2 separate regions of the Homo sapiens genome follow, and region 2 is linked to region 1. A link means that fine-mapping ties the variant in region 1 to the expression of a gene that starts in the linked region. Tissue or cell type: lymphoblastoid cells. Region 1 holds a variant in brackets; the other region holds the start of a gene. All regions are shown on one strand. Distances are between the middles of the regions.

Region 1 (2,682 bases):
TATGTATATATATACACACATATATATACACATATATATGTATATATATACACACATATATATACACATATATATGTATATATATACACACATATATATACACATATATATGTATATATATACACATATATATGTATATATATACACACACACACACATACACATAATTGTGTTACAGAGCTGCTATGTAATCTCACAATCATCAGAAAAATGACCCCCAAAAGGGGAACCTTGTTCAGATCAGATGACTTCTTAGCATTAGGCATTCCAGTAGGACACTCTAGACTCTTGCGGGGAGACAAAAGCCAGCTTAGTTTTTTCTAACACTCATATGTTAAACTTGTTTGTGTCCAAAACTTCTTTAGAACTGTGATATTCTTACAGGCAAATGAAGTTGCTTAACAAGTGTTTGTATTTTCTCCCCTATTTCTTCCTCCCAGGCTCAAAGATTTGGAAAGAGACAGCTTAACAGAAAAGGTAATCTCCACCTTAAAATTTTTCTTATTACCAAATCTGACTGACACACTTTGTGGCTCATAAAAAGAAATTTGTTTTCTTTAAATGGATTTTGCATTTTTTCCCATGGAGTTTCAAAGATAATTTGGATATTCTTGTTAAATGTCAGCACTAATTTGCTGCTAATAGTTGGGTGGTGGTGGTGTTTTTTTTTGTTGTTGTTTTTGTTTTTTGAGACAGAGTCTCACTCTGTCACCCAGGCTAGAGTGCAATGGCATGATCTCGGCTCACTGTGACCTCTGCCTCCCGGATTCAAGCTGTTCTCCTGCCTCAGCCTCCCAAGTAGCTGGGACTACAGGCACGCACCACCATGCCCAGCTAATTTTTATATTATTAGTAGAGATGGGGTTTCACCATGTTGGCCAGACTGGTCTTGAACGCCTGCTCGTGATCTGCCCACCTTGGCCTCCCAAAGTGCTGGAATTACAGGCGTGAGCCACCATGCCTGGCCCAGGTTTTTTTTTTTTTTAACCAATCTCAGTTCCTAAACAATCTACTCTGGATTGTAACTTGTCCTGGTAACACTGTTTTATTGTGTTTTTGTTATTGTTTTGAGATAGGGTCTCATTCTGTAGCCCAGGCTGGAGTGCAGTGGCACAATTTTGGCTCACTGCAACCTTCGCCTCCCAGGCTCAAGTGATTTTCCCACTCAGCCTCCTGAGTAGCTCTAACTACAGGCTCAAGCCACCATGCCCAGCTAATTTT[T/C]AAATATTTTTTGTAAAGATGGGATTTTGTCATGTTGCCCCAGGCTGGTCTTGAACTCTGGGGCTCAAAGCAATCCACTTGCCTCGGCCTCCCAAAGTGCTGGGATTATAGGTGTGAGCCACTGTGCCTGGCCGACACTTTACAGAAGCACAGTATTATTCTTATAAACCATGATATGTCTCCATCTCACCTCCAGCTTTCCCATTTTTCACCACTTTGGAGACAGGAGTGAAGTGATCCTAATGGAAATTCCCTGAACACATTTCATGACTGTTTAGTGTTTTGACTGAGACAGCATTGCCTGCCATTCACTCATTGTGATGTGATCAGGCAGCTCAATAATTTGTGTATTAGTCCACTAGTGAATAGCTTGGGAATGTGGGTACTGCTAAACCTATATCCTTCCCTTAGGAATGTGTGAAGGAGAAATTGAATCTCTTGCACGAATTTCTGCAAACAGAAATAAAGAATCAGTTATGTGACTTGGAAACCAAATTACGTAAAGAAGAATTATCCGAGGTAAGTCAGTTCTCAGCATCCTAGCCTCTAGAAAAATGTCTCCTCCTAGTAACTTGTCTGTGACCAGGGAGGCAGCAAGATCCCCAGCTGTCCTCATTGCCTGATGATGATGATGATGATGATGATGATGAAGGAAACACATGTGTTTCCTTGTTCTCTGACACTTGTTTACATTCACTGCTACTTAAATTATCCTTTCCTGCTGTAGGAGGGCTACCTGGCTAAAGTCAAATCCCTTTTAAATAAAGATTTGTCCTTGGAGAACGGTGCTCATGCTTACAACCGGGAAGTGAATGGACGTCTAGAAAACGGGAACCAAGCAAGAAGTGAAGCCCGTAGAGTGGGAATGGCAGATGCCAACAGCCCCCCCAAACCCCTTTCCAAACCTCGCACGCCCAGGAGGAGCAAGTCCGATGGAGAGGCTAAGCGTAAGAGCAGATGATTCCTTTTATTTTTAATTGTTTTTGAGATGGAGTCTCACTGTGTTGCCCAGTCTGGAGCACAGTGGTGTAACCTCGGCTCACTGTAACCTCTGCCTCCCAGGTTCAAGAGACCCTCCTGCCTCAGCCTCCCAAGTAACTGGGATTAGAGGTATGTGCCACCACACCCAGCTAATTTTTGTATTTAGTAGAGATGGGGTCTTACCATGTTGGCCAGGCTGGTCCAGAACTCCTGACCTCAAGTAATCCACCTGCCTTGGCCTCCCAAAGTGCTGGGATTACAGGCATAAGCCACCACGCCTGGCCCTGCTTAACTCTCTTTCTTTCTTTCTTTTTTTTTTTTTTTTAATGACAGAGTCTTGCTCTATCGCCCAGGATAGAGTGCAATGGCGCGATCTCGGCTCACTGCAACCTCCGCCTCCCAGTTTCAAGCGATTCTCCTGCCTCAGCCTCCCAAGTAGCTAGTATTACAGGCGGGCACCACCATGCCCAGCTAATCTTT
Region 2 (2,682 bases), 69 kb after region 1:
GCCGTCCAAAGCCCCGTGGGGGTCCAGCCCCCACTCTGCCCTGACCTTGGCACCCGCCGCCGCCCAAAGCCTCTTCTCCCCGTGGCCACCAGAGAGCACCCGCGAGCGCTGGAGTCCTGCCCCATCCTTTTGCTTCCAGGTGCTCACACTTGGCCAGGGAGTTGCCGCCAAAAAGCCAGACTCACCCCACAAGGTCCCCCAAGAGCGCTCCCGCCCGCCATACCCCCCAGTGCCACCCTCTGTGCTCCGCGACTCACTCCCTCGCACCAGCCCACCCAGGCTTCCTGGCTGCTCTTGCAGACTTGTGCCTTGGTACCTTCGCACCCAGACTTTTTTTTTTGAGACAGAGTCTCACTCTCATCACCCAGGCTGGAGTGCAATGATGTGACTTCAGCTCACTGCAACCTCTGCCTCCCGGGTTCAAGTGATTCTCCTGCCTCAGCTTCCTGAGTATTTGGGACTACAGGCACCCACCACCACGCCTGGTTTAATTTTAAATTTTGCATTTTTAGTAGAGATGGGGTTTCCCCATGTTGGCCAAGAGGTCTCGAATTCCTGACCTCAGATCTGCCCGCCTCAGCCTCCCAAAGTGCTGAGATTACAAGTGTGAGCCACCGTGCCCAGCCACACCCAGACATTCTTGAGGCTCCTCTTCCCACGTCCGTGGTCCTGCCTGCGAGAGGCCCCAAGGCCACCCTAACCACTGTTGACAGCAGCCCTCGTGCCTCCACTCTCCCTTCCCTGCGTTATTTTCCCCCATACCCTGCGCCACCTGATGACGGTGAGAAAAATCTCCCTCCTTCGGGAGGATGGGGGGGCCTGCTTACCCATTACTGGTGCCAGTGCTCACCACAGTGCCCAGGGCACAGCAGCACAGGGGCACTCACTCCTTGTGCACCCCACCCCTGCCTCTGCAGGCTGGGGACAGGCTTCTCCGGAGGCGCCTCCCTGCTCCCAACGCCAGCCTGCTTAAGGAGGAAGTGTCGTCTAGACGTGGCTTTTTTTTGGAGACAGGATTTCACTGTCACCGAGGCTGAGGTGCAGTGGTGCAATCACAGCTCAGTGCAGTCTCGACCTCCTGGGGTCAAGTGATCCCCCTGCCTCAGCCTCCCGAGTAGCTGGAATCACAGGCTCGCATCACCACACCCAGCCTTGACCTAGGCTTTTTTTTTTTGAGATGGAGTTTCGCTCATTGCCCAAGCTGGAGTGCAATGGTGCAATCTCGGCTCATGGCAACCTCCGCCTCCCGGGTTTAAGTGATTCTCTTGTCTCAGCCTCCCGAGTAGCTGGGATTACAGGCATGTGCCACCAGGCCCAGCTAATTTTTTTATTTTTAGTAGAGACGGGGTTTCTCCTTGTTGGTCAGGGTGGTCTCGAACCCCTGACCTCGTGTTCCACCCCCCTCGACCTCCCAAAGTGCTGGGATTACAGGCGTGAGCCACCGTGCCCAGCCCCAGACCTAGGTGTTTTACCAATACCCACTACCCCCACCTCCTGACAATCTGCAGACCCCCAGAGACAGCCAACATGCCTTCTCCTTACCCGAGACGTTGGCTGCCATGCTCCCGTGCCGATCCTCAGCCTGTGTCTGCTACCCAGTTCCCCAGCCCCTCCCCCAGTCACCAGTGGCTTAGTGGGCCCTGCCCCAGCCCCATCCCCAGTTACTGGCCCAGCCAGCAGAGCAGGCCAGCGTGCCTTTCCACCCACGTTTCCTTCCTCATTGTGCCACAACCCTCCTGAGGTTCAAGCTCATCTGCTGAAAGTGTGACCTGTCTGCTTGCACGGCTCTTTGGTGGGACTGGGGGGAGGGGCCACTCATGGCTGCTGCTGCCACCAATGAAACCAACCCCGTGCAGGGTAGGGGAGAGACCCAGCTTCCAGGAAGAAACCAGGTGGGAGGGACTCTCGGGTGTGGCCGGCCCAGGACTCTCTGGGTTGCTTTGTATGGCTCCAGAATCCCCCATCCCAAACGCTGACGTGGACCCCTGGCCAATTCAGTTCTTTACTGGAGTGGAAGGGCTGGGGACACAACTCCTTTATGAAAGGAAACCGAGGGCCACATCTCGGGCCCCAATCTGGGGCGTTCAATCCAGCCGCTGCTCCGGTGCGGCTTGGGCTCAGGCCACTCTCTTCCCTGGGCGGCCCCGGCCCCGGCCTCGCCCACCATCCCGGGAAGCCCCTCTGGGCCCCCGCCTGGCCTGGGCTCCCTGGGACTTGTCCTTGGTCTTGGGAAACTTCTGGTCACAAAGGCGACCCCTGCCTCGATCCATTTCCCACCGCTTCCGCTTCCGCCCTGGAGACTTGGCAAGCCGTTTCTGCTTGGCCTCGGGGAACAGGTCTGTGGGGAGAGACAGTGTCAGGGCCCCCAGAGACAAGGACAGGCTCTGGGTGCCCTGCTGCAGACCCCACTCCATACCCTCACTGGGCGCCTCGCCCACCGCCTGGCAGAAATACTCGATGTCATCATCTTCCTGTTCATCATCGTCCTCACCCAACTCCAGGCTCGCCGTCCTTGAAGGGATCCCAGAGGCCTCTTCATCACTACCCCCGACCCGTGCCTTCTTCATGCCCTCCAGGCTCTTCTTTCTGGAGGAGGGCGTGGGGGTCAACATAGCCGCCCATCCCAGGGACCCCCCCTTGGCCCTGCCCTTCCCAGCTCTGCCTGGACCTGTGGGCCTCCCG

The links. PIP is the estimated chance that this variant, and not a neighbour inherited with it, causes the effect.
Region 2: P2RY11 starts here. The variant in region 1 is fine-mapped to the expression of P2RY11 in lymphoblastoid cells (TwinsUK, PIP 0.95). The same link has a PIP of 0.9 or more in whole blood.

What each region holds. Positions count from the first base shown.
Region 1 is chr19:10,179,836-10,182,517 of GRCh38, reverse strand. DNMT1 (DNA methyltransferase 1) reads left to right here. Exons shown (of 41, transcript NM_001130823.3): 2 at 441-477; 3 at 1,633-1,740; 4 at 1,949-2,168; 5 at 2,284-2,331. Among named protein-coding and RNA genes, the nearest start is that of DNMT1, 14 kb to the left of the region's middle. The variant T/C (reference allele first, on the strand shown) is at 1,222.
Region 2 is chr19:10,110,601-10,113,282 of GRCh38, reverse strand. It overlaps P2RY11 (purinergic receptor P2Y11), which reads right to left and starts at 1,590. Exons shown (of 2, transcript NM_002566.5): 1 at 1,543-1,590. The coding sequence starts at 1,561. It overlaps PPAN (peter pan homolog), which reads right to left. Exons shown (of 12, transcript NM_020230.7): 10 at 2,669-2,682; 11 at 2,417-2,586; 12 at 1,271-2,338. The coding sequence ends at 2,118. PPAN-P2RY11 (PPAN-P2RY11 readthrough) reads right to left here. Exons shown (of 13, transcript NM_001198690.2): 10 at 2,669-2,682; 11 at 2,417-2,586; 12 at 2,199-2,338.